2 separate regions of the Homo sapiens genome follow, and region 1 is linked to region 2. A link means that fine-mapping ties the variant in region 2 to the expression of a gene that starts in the linked region. Tissue or cell type: whole blood. Region 2 holds a variant in brackets; the other region holds the start of a gene. All regions are shown on one strand. Distances are from middle to middle.

Region 1 (8,246 bases), 140 kb before region 2:
TTAGCACCATCTCCCTAGGTACTGTCCTGGGGATAGTGAGTTCTTGTGAGAGCTGGTCGTTTAAAGGTGTGTAGCACCGCCTCCCTCCCCCCTCCCCCCGAAACGCTCTCTTGCACCTACTTTGACCATGTGACAGGCCTCTCCAGAGGGCCAAACAGATGCCAGCATCATGCTTAAAGCCTATAAAGCCTGCAGTACTGTGAGCCAATTAAATCTCTTTTCTTTATAAGTTACCCAGTTTCAGGTATTTCTTTATAGCAATGTGAGAATGGACTAATATAACATCCAATCAGATACCAAGTTCCATCACTTCTGTTTCTGAAATCTCTCTCCATTGGTTCCCTTCCTTTGCATGGCAGTTGTCACTGCATTAGCTCAGACCCTCATTCATTTATTCTGGATGTATCAGCTCTGTCTGAATTATGAAAAATTTCACCTAGAGTCTCATGTCTAACCCTTTGTTTTAGCTGTTTGCTCAGCCTGGTTTACCCTTCTCTACCACACCTATTGGGCTACTTGAAGACATAGATTTAAATCACTGATATGGTTTGGATCTGTGTCCCCAGCCAAATCTCGTGGTCGAATTGTAATCCCCGATGTTGGAGGTGGGGCCTGGTGGGAGGTAATTGGACCATAGGGACAGAGTTCTCATAAATGGTTTAGCACTATCTCCTGGTGCTGTTTTTTGTGACAATAAGTTCTTGAGAGACCTAGTTGTTTAAACATGTGTGGCATTTCCCTGCCCCACCCCGCCTTGCTTCTGTTCCAGTCACGTAAGACATGCGTGCCTGCTTCCCCTTCACCTTCTACCATGATTGTAACCTCCCTGAGGGCTCCCCAGCCATGCTTCCTGTGCAGCTGCAGAACCATGAGCCAATTGAACTTCTTTTCTTTATAAATTACCCAGTTTCAGTTATTTCTTTATAGCAATGTGAGAACAGATTAATATAATCACCTTCTCAGAGAAGACTTGATTCTTTTCATCAACTCCTTTCCTTTAAATTCTTCTTCTCTGTGCTCCCAATAGCACATCATGCTTAAGTCTATCATATCACACATTATGTATCACTCACACATTGGGTACAACTATCAGTACCCTGATAATTGATTTGCTTGTCTTACTCCTTCCCTGGATTGAGAGGTCTTTGAGGACAGGGAGACCATGTCTAATATCATTATCTTAATACAACCTAGCAGATTGTCTGGGAGGAAATCAATAAATGCTCCAGAGAATGAATATCCATTCACACTGTAGACTCCTTAGGAAGATCTGAGAGAGTTTGTTCACATAATATTATAGCATTCAACGTGTTTATTTAGTCTTATTAAATTTTGACTGCAATTTAAAAAAAATTTGCATAGTTGCATGGTTGAAAATAATCAGTGGTGATGTTACTCAGTTGTGCAAAATATTTGGGATAATAGGCAGCACTATTCGTGCTTATGTTCTCATTCATATTGGCAGCAGCTTCTTCCCTTATCCTGTTAACAAGAGATTATAATTTATGAATGGTAATTTGAAAAGTGGACTCTGTGTTGAACTTTGGTTTAAGGCTCAGGAGATTTGCATCAACACCAATGAATAAACTAACCTCTTAGAGGTTGCTTTTTATCTTTCCTAGTTCCTGTCCACCAAAATGGTCACTATACCAAGAAAATTCCTTGAAATAGATTATCTCAGAACCTAAGCCATTGCTAAATCTGAAGGTTGGACTTCCTTTGGGATGGTTTTCATTTACATTCACCTTCCTCATGTAACTCAGATTTAGGTCTCATTCTAGCTTGGCCTGTGTCTGGTTTGGGCCAATCTCTTAAATCTTCCTGGACATCAGTTTCCTTATTTTTTTTTTTTTTTTGAGACAGAGTTTCGCTCTTGTTACCCAGGCTGGAGTGCAATGGCGCAATCTCGGCTCACTGCAGCCTCTGCCTCCCAGGTTCAAGCGATTCACCTGCCTCAGCCTCTCGAGTAGCTGAGATTATAGGCACCCACCACCACGCCCAGCTAATTTTTTGTATTTTTAGTAGAGACGGGGTTTCACCATGTTGGCCAGGCTGGTCTTGAACTCCTGACCCCAGATGATCTGCCCGCCTTGGCCTCTCAAAGTGTTGGGATTACAGATGTGAGCCACCGCACCCAGCCCAGTTTCCTTATTTTTAAAATCAGGTTATTTGCTAAAATAGCTAGGAAGACTTTTCAAGCTCAAATATCCTACCGTGGGTTCTTTTATCATCTTATTGCCCCTGTCCTTTTTCTCTTCCTCCCTGACTGGTGAGCTGGTCCTCCTACCTGCCCTAGCATGGCACATGTAGATACACTGTGTTATTCAGCACTTTGCTTTGACCTAGAGGTTTTCTTCAACTTGGAGGGCTGAGAAGCAATGTTTGCTTGTGTCGTTTGGAATGGTGCCTGTTGGCGTGCACAGATCCTTTCCACAAAGGGCCTGTGAGTCCCTTCCTTTTAGGAAGCACATTCCTGACAGTGGTTGCAAAAGTAGAGAGGGATTGCAGAGTGAACACAGATTCTTGTGTCAGAGCGACATTCCTAAATGGCAATGTTCAGCAGACTTAGGTGATTGTGATCTATGGGGGATATGGGGAATGAGTAGGTATGCGATTCATTATGAATGTCACACAAATGAAGTGTCCAAGGGTTTGGAGCAAGGAAGCACTTCATAATACCTCACAGCTTCTGGATTATTTTGTTACATTTTTGTTTAATTGAGGGTACAACCAGTTAAGTTACAAAGCACTTCAAGTGAAATCATTGTTTCATCAAGAAGTGTCTGTATTTTATGAGGTAAACTAAGATTATTCCCGATTTGATTCACAGGTATTCTAATTTCATCATTAGATGCAAAAGGACAAGTGAGGTACAAGCTGTTTTTTGATGAGATGTGCATGGGAAGTGTTTCTATAAAACAGTTGTCTGCCACGTGGGAAGGCAGGTCTGGGCTGTTAGAAGTAGAAGAAAGAGATTTAAAGAGCTGGGAAGGAGGGAGAAAATAAAGAAAGGTGGCCTGTGAGGATATGTACAGACAGAGAGGTAGCAGGCGCTTAAGGCCAAGAGGTGAGCTGTCCCTGTCTGGGCAGAAGAAGTGCGCTAGGGGCAGCTGCCTGCACCCCCTGCTCTGAATTCCTGCAACAGCGGTCCCAGGAGAACAAGAGACAGGTCCTGACAAGCAGTAGAGTCGGTGCAGCGCGCCCGGGTTCGGATAGGGTTAAGGCCAACACCTGCAGCTGAAGTACGACCCACATGGGAAGTAGGAAGTGCGGCGCCTGAGCTTCCTGTATAAATAAACGCGCTGCTACCGCTGCTGGCGAGCTGTGCCCCACGCTCCCGCTGCAACAGTCCCGGGCATCGCAGCTGCCAGTCAAGGCTAGGAGGCGGTCGGGGACTCCGCCTCCTCCCGACCCGTAGGTCTGGGAGCGCAAGTCCTGTTGCAGTCTTGCAAAGTGTAAAGCTGTCAGCCGCAGAGCACGGAGGAAAGACGGAGAGAATGGAAGAGCTCCTGTCCGGTGTGCCAGCAGCCCGGACTGGCGGTGAGCGCGAGGGAGGCTACTGAGAAGCCCGGCGACGGAGGAACGCAGGTCTGCTGCCAGGTAGGTTTAGCGAGCTTTTTAAAGGCTACAGGCGTTGCAAGACCGGAATGGTGTTGCTGGACTAAGGAAAAAGGACAGGAAACTCACTGTGACACCACAATTTTTCGATTTTCTGTCTCTAGTGCTCAAACCATACAGAACTGAATTCATTCTGAATGCCTTAAACACCTGTTAACTTAGAAGAAAAATGCCTTTGTTAAAGGAAAGTAGTTTCATTTCTAATAAAACAGTTTCTATAATAGAATGTATTGTAGAATCCGAGATTAGACCAGACCTCTCCCTAGGTCTTAAGGGGAGACCAAAAGTTGGCATAATCTCGGATTATGCATTATAGTGCTTATTTTATCAGGTAATTGCTAATGAAACAGTGAAACTCTGATACTACGAGAGCCATTCTCAAATTTAAGTTAAAATCGAACTGATTGTCGTTTGTGCAGGGAAAAGGTAGGTATCTTTTGCTTATTCTTTCTAAAACACCTTTTGTTTTTCTCATGAGTTTCAAGGATCCTGCTGTAAGTCTACTCCTCATGCATATACACTATTCACATAAAGATTTCCCAGAAATTAATTCCCTTCTCTGGGAAATGTTCTTTTTTCATGTTCTCATAACAGACTGTCAGTTTCATATTGCTTTCTGCCACATGTATCTTATCAAAACATTAGCTCTGAGGTTCTTAACAGGACTATCTCTGCTCTTCCGATTTGGCATTTCTGGACGTTTATTTGAACATTGAGAGGTATAAATTAAATGGCAATGTATCTAACATTTCTGAGGAAGCAGATTAGGGGGTGTCTGTGCCCAGAAGCAAAATAAATGAACTTTGGGATGACTCAGTTTTTAGGGTGTGGGTAAGAGGCAAAAGGAACCTAGCCAGTCCTAACTGAGTTGCTGGCTAATTAGAGTATCTGTCTGCCGCAGCTTTCACTGAAATGAGCCTCTTGGTCCCTTTCACATCAAATCCCTCTGTGAGTCCCTCCTTCTCCTTAGTTTATCTTTCCTTCACAACCTGGGTCCTTTTCATGGACAGCAGTGCCTTAAATACTTCTAAAACTATCCTGAGGGGGAGAAAAACCTATAGCAGATCCACAAAGCCACTTGTAGATAATTGTATTATGAAATCCAAGGTCATGGTTTCACACAACTCCTGCTCTGCCCTTGCACACCTTTGACTGGCATTTTTTTTTTTATTTTTGTCGTGGGCATAAACTTAGAAAAGTGGGAAAGGGAAAAACCTCAGTTTCAAAAGTAGTCTCTGACTAATTAATTATCTTGATTAAAAAAAGGTAAACATATATAGTGAACGTGAAAAAGATGTTGAGTAGTAGAATTGGGTTGCTTGGCTTTTTATTTAAAACAAACAAAACTCAACCAAAAAAACCCCCCAAAACCCCAAACAATCACCCTAGATAACTTTCTCCTACACTACTGTGCTGGAAGTCGGGCTTGAGTGTGGTCAAATCCTGCCCATTTACCCAGAGTTTTACAAATATTTACAGTCATCTATGCCAAATATCTTTGTGCTGAGTCCCAAAGAACATTCTCAGCATTCAAAAGGCCCATTCTCATGAATGGTTTCAGTTCATTGGCAATTTAAAGGCATTCAGGCTTCCAAACTAGGTCAGCTTAAGACATGTCTTTTTAAAATAATCAGTTTTTGGGTCTCAGATTATGAACCAGGTTTTTGGAGCCAAACTCTACAGCAGAGAGAAGAGTATGCTCTCTCTGGAAAGAAAAAGCTTATTTTATCTACCTGGTATGACCATTTAACTTCCTGAAAAACGTCTTTCTCCTCAGTAGTATGAATATTTTTCATCTGAGGAGGTGCACTTAAAATTTCCTTCTTGAAAAGTCATTTCAATATTTTAGACGTTTAGAAACATTTATATGTATGTCAGAATCCTTTCTCCGAAGTGTTTCTGCTAATCCTGGCTTCTTTGTTTCCCCTGGCCTTGACTTTATGACATTACTTTCTTGGAGAGTGAAGTTTTTAGTGTTTGAAATCTCCAGTTTGAGATAGAGGTCAGGAATCATGCTGAACCCAGATGTTACTGAAGGAACAAAGTCTGAGCAGTTTTGGGACTAAGCCTACTTTGTACAACTGATTATTTTGGATGTGGGAAAAGGGCCAAGCTGCCAGACAAGTCATGCTTTTCACTTGGACTTTGGGGAATAGGTATCTGTAGCCATTGCTCCTAAGTACTGAAACATTTCTTTCAGGGGTGCCTACCTTAATTTATAGAAGCTCCTTACCTGAAACAAATGGTCAATATTTTCAGCTTGTGAATTTCTGGAAGTGAATACAGATGAGAACCAGGCCTTTAATATTTTCTCTCCTCCAAGTACAATCAGAAAAGTTATCCACTCTACTACTGAGTGACTGATTTGCTAGGTGCTAGGTTAGATGCTGGGATATAAAGATGGCTAAGATGTGGTCTCTGTCCGGAAGAAATTCTCATAAGGTCAGAAGTGACTTGGGTCTAGAGTGGTAGTTCTGAATTCACATTGCTTTGCCAGATTATAAAAAGTACTTCGATGTTTGTCACCTCGATCATCTTAATTTTCTTGGTAGTGTTACCTTGACCATTTGACCATTAAGAGGTATATGACACCTAAGTTAATTTATGTAAATATTTTAATTCATAATTTTTACCTTTAGGTGTATGTGGGAGGTCTTGGACTAAAGTTTTAGTTTTATTAACTTTGGCATTTGCTATTTACCCAGTCGGTGAGTACTTTGGAACCTAATGCATCATACCATAGTTGTTATTAAAAAATGGATAACTATATATTAAATGAGTAAAAATGACCAATGCTTCTGCAACGTGGAATGAGGATCTTCTCATCTATGAGCAGATCTCTTTCTTGAATTCAAAACACAGCAATCTAAGTGAAATAGACTTTTCTTATTCATAGCTGGAGATACTTCTGATCACATGGCTTGGAGTATTTATTAAGAGCATACTTTGAAAGCCATGTCCCATTGTTTTCTAAATCTTTTGAAGTCACGAGTTTGAGTCCCAGCCCTTCATCAACTTGTTCTTTGTTTTTCTTGGGAAGATAAAACAAGACAACTCGTTTCTGTCTGTTGAACTTGTGGCTGAAACCATAAACCCACACATTCTCCTGCATATGATTATATGAAATCCTCTGTTGAAAACCTCCTCAACTAGTTGACTCTTAATAAGTAGGAGCTGGGTTTAATCACCTTTACATCCCTAGCACCTAATGTGTAGAATTTGTTCTTTGTGTGTTGACTTTGTTTCCTTCATGATAAATTCCTGTTATAGGAAATTAATTGGCAAAGACATACAAAAATCTACACCTGCACTTTGCTCAGGTGGGGTGAAGATTCCTCTTCCAAACTGGTTTCCAATTTGTTTCTAATTAAAATTTCTATATGAAACTTTTAACTTTAACAGGAGGGGGTAATATTGGCACATGCTTTTATTCATTTGAAAAAAAATTTTTGATTTAGATATTCGTGCTTTAGCGGCTCTGGTTTTCTGGTAATGTCCTGACCCAAGAAATCAGCCTGGCTCTTGCTCTATAAGGCTCTTTGAAATACCACTTCTCCTTGATTGGTCAATTACATCATTGTCTGACCTGCCTTTAAGTGGCGTTCCTTCCTGCTTCTGAGCTTTGTTGTTATGCCAGGCATAGGGAAGAAAATTATTTAGCAGGGCTGTGTGAATAATTGTGGGAGGCAGGGAACCACTGATTAAAACAGGAGTGGGCAAGGCACAGTGGTGATATTGAAGAGGTAGCTACCATGATGAATGCAAAATTGCCATGCCAAAAATATCATTGAGCTGTTATTCTCATATTCACTCCCACCTTCTTTGATAAGTTTATATTGTTTGGAAAACTGGGAATGGATTTCTACCTCTTGGGCCTTACCCTGTAGGGTAATGAGAACATGGAAAGAAGGCAAGAAGAAATGTGCTTTTAAGAAAAAGCCAGTTGCGGTGGCTCATGCCTGTAATCCCAGCACTTTGGGAGGCTGAGGTGGGCTGATCACGAGGTCAGGAGATCGAGACCATCCTGGCAAACACGGTGAAACCACATCTCTACTAAAAATACAAAAAAATTAGCCAAGCGTGGTGGTGGGCGCCTGTAGTCCCAGCTACTCGGGAGGCTGAGGCAGGAGGATGGCGTGAACCCAGGAGGCGGAGCTTGCAGTGAGCCGAGATCGGGCCACTGCACTCCAGCCTGGGGGACAGAGCCAGACTCCATCTCAAAAAAAAAGGAGCAGCAGTTTGCAAATGTTAAAACTAGATGTGCCAAGGGCCAGGCGCGGTGACTTACGCCTGTAATCCCAGCACTTTGGGAGGCCGACGCGGGAGGATCACGGAGGTCAGGAGATCGAGACCATCCTGGCTAACATGGTGAAACCCCATCTCTACTAAAAAAAAAAAAAAAAAAAAAAAAAAATTAGGTGTGGTGGCAGGTGCCTGTAGTCCCAGCTACTTGGGAGGCTGAGGCAGGAGAATGGCGTGAACCCAGGAGGCAGAGCTTGCAGCAAGCTGAGATAGCACCACTGCACTGCAGCCTGGGCGACAGAGCGAGACTCCGTCTCAAAAAAAAAACGATGTGCCAGATGTTCTGTCCTCTGTAGGATTTGGAGTTAGCTTATCACAACGTCATG
Region 2 (8,246 bases):
CCTGGGTTTAAGCGATTCTCGTGCCTCAGCCTCCGGAGTAGCTGGGATTACAGGCATGTGCCACCACATCTGGCTAATTTTTGTAGTTTTAACAGAGACAGGGTTTCACCATGTTGGCCAGGCTGGTCACGAACTCCTGACTTCAGGTGATCCAACTGCCTCAGCTTCCTAAAGTGCTGGGATTACAGGCAGGAGCCATTGCGCCTGGACTACATATTATTTTTTTTAACGTATAGATATCCATATATTTTCTAAAATATGGGAATCAATATATACGTATAGATTTATCCTTAAACTTGTTTTATAACATACAATTTTCCATATACTTAAATATTCAAAATCACAAATATTAATATTTTATAACATTATTTCATATGTATATAATTATTTAATCAATTCCCTGTATTTAACAATTAGGTTGTTTCCAATTTACAGCATTACCAGGATTGCGGAGATTGATATTTTTGTGTTTATTTAGATTATTTTTCCATAATAAATTCTCAGAAATGAAAATATTGCTGAAGGATCAAAACACTTTTGAGATTTTTGCACATTTTGACAAATTTTGACCTAACAGATTCCTAGTAGCAGTGAGTGAGAGTACTCATTTCATCATATACCTGACAGCAGTGAGTATTATTTTAAAAGACATACATGCCAAGTTGAGGGAATAAAGTGTTATCTCTGCTTCATCTTTCATTTCTTTGATTACCAGTCATGTGGGACTTTTAAAACATAACTGTGTTAATGGTCATTTCTATTTACTCTTTTGTAAATGATCATTCTTTTATTTGATCAATACTTATTGATTGCCCACTATGTGTGAAGCACTGCAGAAGGTGTAACATTCAGCAGCAAATGAGAGAGAGACAGCCCCTGCCCTAATGGAACATAAAGTTTTTTTTTTCTTTTGAGGACAGAGTCTCAGTCTGTTGCCCAGACTGGAGTGCAGTGGCACAATCTCGGCTCACTGCAACCTCTGCTGCCTGGGTTCAAGTGATTCTCGTGCCTCAGCCTCTGGAGTAGCTGGGGTTTCAGGCGTGTGCCACCACATCCGGCTAATTTTTGTATTTTTAGTAGAGACGGGGTTTCAGCAGGAATCACTGCTGACCTCAGGTGATTCGCCTGCCTTGGCCTCCCAAGTTGCTGGGATTACAGACGTGAGCCACTGCGCCAGGCCTTTTATGGTGGTTTTTGATGTGAGTAAGTGATATACAAAAGTGTAGGAAAATTGGTCTCCCTCTCTTTCTGGTTTATTTTTTCCTTTATCATTGATTAGAAAGATATTTGAAATTCTAGATTATAAATTCACATATTTATTATTTCTTCTGGGTCTCCTGAGTGTAGTTTTTACACTTAATAATTAAATCCATCCAAAATGTACATTATTGTATCTTGTAAGGCAGTGATTTATCTTCTCACTGAAACAGTTAACTCTCTATTTTAACACTATTTATGAAATAATCCTTCCTCCTCTTGAATGATTAGTCATCTCACCTTTATCATATACTAAGTTCTTTTTGAGTAGATATATATTAGGATCCATTTCTGGGCTATTTGTTTCTACCATCAATTTTTATGTGTGTACTACGTTATTGTAGTGTCATAATATGTTTTATTATCTGGTAATGTAAGTTCACTTAATTTATGTGAGAATCATTAATTAAACTGGTTTTAGTAGCTGCTGGAGTTCAGCCTGACTGATGAGATTGCATGGTTTTTATGATGTCGTATAAAGATATATAAAAGCAAAACCTTTTCTTTTTTTCATATGGACTTTTTTCCTTTGACTATAATGTAGCACATGTTGTAAAACTTTGGATCTTCCAGAAAAACACAAAGGAGAAGATAAACATCACCCAATTCTGTCACCAGAGAGAGCCTTTTAAAATATTTTGAATCTTATACCTCTGGCCTTTTAGAGATGCACATGATACATATTATTTTATATTATCCTGCAGGGATTGTGCCTTTTATTTCTAACGATATCTCAGTGGAACACTTTCTATGTCATTAAATACTCTTAGTCTTTTAAAACATTAATTTAATGATTTCATATGACATGTAGAATGTATCATACTATATTTAACCATCCTTAGGTTTATTTGCAGTCTCTATTTTAAATGGTGCCACGATGAACATTCTTAGGGAGTAGGTTAGAGGTTTTTTTCTCTTTTTCACTCATTTTTCTTCTTTCTCCATCGTGTTTGGAAAGAGGTATTTTGGTAAACTGGAGAACAGTGATAGCTTTGATATGCTAAACGCATCAGACTTATCCCAAGGAAACCTGTTGATATGGTTTGGCTGTGTCCCCACCCAAATCTCATTTTGAATTTTAATTCCAACAATTCCCACGTGTCGTGGGAGGAACCTGGTGGGAGGTAATTAAAACACGGGGGGTGGGTCTTTCCCGTGCTGTTCTCGTGCTAGTGGATAAGTCTCACGAGATCTGACGGTTTTAAACACGGGAGTTTCCCTACACAAACCGTTTCTTTGCCTGCCGCCATCCACGTAGAATGTGACTTGCTCCTCTTCGCCTTCTGCCATGATTCTGAGGCCTCCCAGCCACGTCGAACTGTAAGTCCATTAAACCTTTTTCCTGTATAAATTATCCAGAGTTGGGTATGTCTTTATCAGCAGCATGAAAATGGAGTAATACACCTGTTAAGAGTAGCAAGGAATGATGCCATGAGTAAAAGATGGAATCAGGCGGGGCGCAGTGGCTCAGCCTGTAATCCCAGCACTTTGGGAGGCCGAAGCGGGCGAATCACCTGAGGTCGGGAGTTCAAGACCAGCCTGACCAACATGGAGAAAGCCCGTCTCTACTAAAAATACGAAATTAGCCGGGCGTGCGGGCGGATGCCTGTAATCCCAGCTACTCAGGAGGCTGAGGCAGGAGAATTGCTTGCACCTGGGAGGCAGAGGTTGCAGTGAGCCTAGATTGTGCCATTGCATTCCAGCCTGAGCAACAAGAGTGAAACTCCGTCTAAAAAAAAAAAAAAAAAAAAAAAAGATGGAATCAGCTGCCGAGTGTGGTGGCTCACGCCTGTAATCTGTAATCCCAGCCCTTTGGGAGGCTGAGGTGGGTGGATCACAAGTTCAGGAGTTCAAGACCAGCCTGACCAATATGATGAAACCCCATCTCTACTAAAGATACAAATATTAGCCAGTAATCAGAAGTTAAAGCATTCATTCCTTAATCTATTCATCAAATGGCTAAGAAGTTTCTAAAATGCTCTCTTCTATGGAATATGAAGATAAATGAGATTTGACCCCTAACTTCAAAGAACCCGTGATCAAAATTTGTGTCTATGTGTGCGTGTGTGTGTGTGTGAATGAGGGAGATACACAACAGGTAATTATGATATAACACAATAACTGATATACAGAAACATGAACATTTTGCTTGATCCATAATTAGTCAAATCACTAATCTGAGTCTCTTGTTTTTACCCACTATTCCATGCTCCTAATAAAAATAACATTTGAAAATATCAACAGGGATATCTAAATAGATACACATTCATGTCCTATGTTTTGCAGTATGGTGTGCATCCTACATGTACAGGGTCGATTTTTCTACCTCCCTGAGATAAGCTCCCACATTAATCTGCTATGGTACTACTTTCCTCCCTTTATCAATGATTCAAAGAATAACAAGCCAGACATCCTTGGCAACTGAAATCATTTCAATGTATTGAAATCATAAGGTGTACTGGTTAGCTATGGACTGTGCTGTCTCTTAACCCATTCAGAAAGATGAGGGTAGCCGGGCGCGGTGGCTCAAGCCTGTAATCCCAGCACTTTGGGAGGCCGAGGCAGGCGGATCA[C/T]GAGGTCAGGAGATCGAGACCATCCTGGCTAACACGGTGAAACCCCATTTCTACTAAAAATACAAAAAATTAGCCGGGCGCCTATAGTCCAAGCTACTCGGGAGGCTGAGGCAGGAGAATGGCGTGAACCGGCAGGCGGAGTTTGCAGACAGCGCCACTGCACTCCGGCCTGGGTGAAAAAGAGTGAGACTCCGTCTCCAAGCAAAAAAAAAAAAGATGAGGGTCACCAGCAAAATTTCTTTCATTTTACATTGTTGATATCTCTGTTTTAATCCGTAGTCCTTGTGGAAGGTGGCTGTTGCCTGTTATACCTTGTGAGGGGGCTTAGCTAATCAACCCTTATTAATTAGTCACTAATATGGGCTATGTACCAACAACTGTTTTCACTAAGTGGTGGCAGCACTAATTGATGGGGCATAATGAGCCCCTCCCGAATTACGAAGAAACATTGCTCCTTACCCTCTGTAGATGATCCCTTATAGATGAAGGGCTACCAAGGGAAGGCTGGAACAGGCATGGGATGGCAGGGTCTAATTTGTTTTTAACCTGCTTCTAAGAAGTTGCTTAATTAATATAGGATTAGCACATTTGAAGGCTTGAACAGGTGCAAACACACACTTGTAACCAGCTGTGTAATTGACCGCAGTGCAACAAGCCAGGTCTGAGCATGCAGACCTCACTAATCACCTGCTGACCTCCTATCTGTGGCTGTAAAAAGACCTGTTCTTTTTAGTGCAGGATTCCCTGAATCTATCTGGAAGGCCATGTATGTTGGGATGAGTTGAAATTTTTGGTTTTTGAGCAAACCTTTGTAAATGGGTTCATCTCCACATATGATACCCCAGAAACATTGCTGCTCCCCTTTTCTTGGTTTGTTTCTGTGGCCTTACTAACAATCTGGGGAATCTTGTGGATGTTGTACAGATGCTCCTTGCCTTCGAGGGGTTACATCTCAATAAACCCATTGCAAATTGAAACTATTATAAGGAAAAATGCATTTAATACACCTATAGGTTTATCAAATGTCATAGCTTAGCCTAGCTGACTTTCAACATACTCAGAACACTTATGTTAGCCTGCAGCTGGGCCAAATCATCTAACACAAAGCCCATTTTACAATAAAGTGTTGAACATCTCGTGTAATTTATTAAATAACATACTGAAAGTGAAAAACAGAATGGCTGTATGAGTACTCAAAGTATGGTATTTATTGAATGTGTATTGCTTTTGCACCATTAAAAATGAAAAATAATTGTAAGCCAAACCATTGTAGTCGAGGATCATTTGTATATGCTGTGGTAAATAGGTCTCCAGGCTTAGATCTCAAAGAATTCCAGAGTTCTAGGAGCCTTTAGGAATAGCTACCTAGTTCAGGGGTTGGGAAACTGCAATGTGGAGCCAATTCAGCCTGCGACTTGTGTTTATAAACCAAATTTTGTTGGAAAACAGCCATGCTTATCTATGTATTTATCCATGTTGCTTTTGTGTTACAATGGCAGAGGTGAGTAGTTGTGTCATTGAGCATATGATGTGCAAAGCTGAAATTATTGACTCTCTGGCTCTATACAGAAAAAGTTTCCTGACCCTTGAGATCAAGGGTCCAATCCATACTATATTTTTCAGCTTTTGTAGTAAAATTAAGTAAATTGCCCTTTATAAAAAGTTTTCAAGGAGCTCACTGTCTAGCAGAGGAGATGAAATACCCAAAATATGTGTAAATTCCTTCCAAATTGCTATTTCTCGTACGTGAAATCTGATTTTTAAAAACTTCACTTCTCATTATTTTTTATTTTCCTGCACAGTAGATTGGGATCTAGGCCTAAATCTAGTTCCTATTCAGTCTGTGTCACCATACCTGGCATCAGTGTATCATATATTTGTTAATTTGTTTATTATCTGTCTTCCTCTATCACAATGCAAGCTTCACAAAAGAAAAACTTTACATTTCTTATTCACATATCCCTAGGGCCTAAAATAGCAACCTGAAATATACTGGATACACAAAAAAACTGTGTTTTATGGAATCTAAGAAGCCATCGGTTGTAAGTTGTACCATTATTTTATATACCACTAAGAAAGAAAAAGCACTGGCAATTAGTCTGTAACACATGCTGAGTCTCCTTGATTGAAAAATACATCCTTGTTCCAGAATTGTTAAGATGTGAAACAATATGCACCTTAAAACCAATGAAGAAGGAGAATTGTCAAGTAGGTGGGAGAAGTGGCGATCTTATAATGATTTTCAAGGCTTAGCTAACATTTTGTCTCAAACCAAATCACAAATATTTATTGAGTAATTGCTTTGTGCAATATTCTGGCCTGGTGCTTCCTCCAAATCATCCCTTACCATAGCACCTTGGGGAACTCCTTGGCGTGCATCCCCCAAGCTGTAGAGACTCAGAGTCTGACGAGCCAATTTAGGACTTAATTATATACTCCTTTTATTGATCACCATTGTTTCTAATGACATAGTCTTTTCTCCACAACTAATTGGTAAGCCCCTTGAGCGCAGGAACTGGTTTTTTAAAGAATGATGTATTCTTCACAGTGCTTTCCCTTTCTGTTACCCAGGGAGCACATGGCAATATAAGGGCTCCTGGGATTGAATCTTAAGTACAGAGAAAACCTAAGAATGCTTTTAGATAGACAGATAAGAGACCAGTAGAGAAGAGCAGATTGAAGGTATGTGTGAGAAACGTTATGTAATGAAAAGATAATTGATGACACACACTTCCAGAGGGTGCTGGCGAGATTGATTCAAAAGCACACGGCTAGGGCACTGAGTAACGAGAAAGAAGTTGCAGATGAAGGATAAATGGACAGGAATAAGAAAGGGCTTCATCATTTAAGAATCTGAAAGAGACAAAAAGGTAAGGAAGGGACTAAATGGGAAGAAAGGGAGAAAACAAACCTTTTCTAATCTCATTAGCTTCACTCTTCCAATGTCCTCCCCACCTCTTCTCAAGGCTCCAGAGAATTTGTCTCCAAATGAAGCCCATTCTCTCTTCTTTCTTGTTAATACTGCCTCCTCTTCTCCCTCTCTTCTTACTACTTTCCCTCCTTAGGCCTACTTACATCTTCTTTCCTCATCAATTCAAAGCTTTCAATTGGTCTTTCTTAGTAAGACATCTCTTTCTAGATTTAGACATATTTTAGGAATTATGAGGACAGAAAAGCAATGCAGGGGAATATGGGGAAGAGGAAGGAACCTGTAATTTATGAATCACTTTTTTTTTTTCACATCTCCTAGGATCTTTACCTAGACCTTTCATTTAATCACAGACACCTTCCTTTAAAATTTTAGATACCCGTCCAAGGGTTCACTAGCAAAGCTGTCGCATGAATTCCAGTCCTCTGGTTTCAGAACCCATATACTGTGCTGACTTTTTTATTTTTATAACATCATGTTGCCTTTCTATAGAGGTAGTTCCTTCTTCTAATTATGAAAGGCTCGTGCTTATGTGTATTCTTATGTTTAATGCCTAGTTTTCATTACTTGAAGAGATTTTGGCAAGATTTAGTACTTTTTAAATATATTTAATTGCACAAGTAATACAGGTCCACAGGAAAAACGATTGAACAATCGTGATAGGCAAAATGAAGAAAATGAAAAATTATCCAGCATCCTTTGTGCCACGGCTTTCAAAATCAGTAAGATGAAAACCAATCCTCCTTCATTACAAAGTATTTTGAATAAGAATATAAGCTTAAGTGCTCATTCAGCAGCAGACAGACATGGGCTAATAGCTCAATGGCCTAACATTTCATCCCCGGACCAAAGCATTAGTTTTAGGCCTTCTTGTGTGGGATCTGTGGATTGTTTTATTTTCTTTCCTAATGAGCAATTGGACTAAAGGATCAGGTTTAATTATAACTAGAGTCCCTTTCTGTTTGTACATCACTGCAGACCTAATTGTAGGCTGGCATCCCTGCTGCGGCCTGAGTGGTCATTAGCTTGCTGATAATGAACTATGCTTGTCAACATGGCCTCATTAACCATTGTTTTTTTTTCAGCAACATGGTTGTAAGGGTTTGAACTTGTGATTGAGGATGTGCTGGACTCATCGTGCTGAGAGAAACTTGTCCAGTTACGTGGTTAGAACCAAAGAGTTTTGGCTCAGACAAGTGATGCTATCCAAGGATAACTGGATCTATGCTGCAGCCTCAGGAATGTGACATGTCAGGAAGAACCCTGACCTGAGAGTTAGAGAGTGAGATTCTTATCCCAGCTCTGTGCTGTGTAGCCCTGTGACTTTGGGCTAATTGTATCACTTTCTGTCCTCTAGTTTTCTCACCTGAAAATAAGAAGGTTCTACTCAATGATTGGTGAGATAACTTTTTGTCAATAAAAATAATTTTGCATGATGCTTGTGCAAACATTTTTTTCCTTTTTTTTAATCAGTGATTTTATCTTCT

Evidence for each region. PIP is the estimated chance that this variant, and not a neighbour inherited with it, causes the effect.
Region 1: RNF144B starts here. The variant in region 2 is fine-mapped to the expression of RNF144B in whole blood (INTERVAL, PIP above 0.99).

What each region holds. Positions count from the first base shown.
Region 1 is chr6:18,384,031-18,392,276 of GRCh38, forward strand. RNF144B (ring finger protein 144B) reads left to right here and starts at 3,320. Exons shown (of 8, transcript NM_182757.4): 1 at 3,320-3,600.
Region 2 is chr6:18,520,259-18,528,504 of GRCh38, forward strand. It overlaps MIR548A1HG (MIR548A1 host gene), which reads left to right and starts at 2,489. Exons shown (of 8, transcript NR_149116.1): 1 at 2,489-2,577. RefSeq lists an enhancer at 7,334-7,969. The variant C/T (reference allele first, on the strand shown) is at 3,831.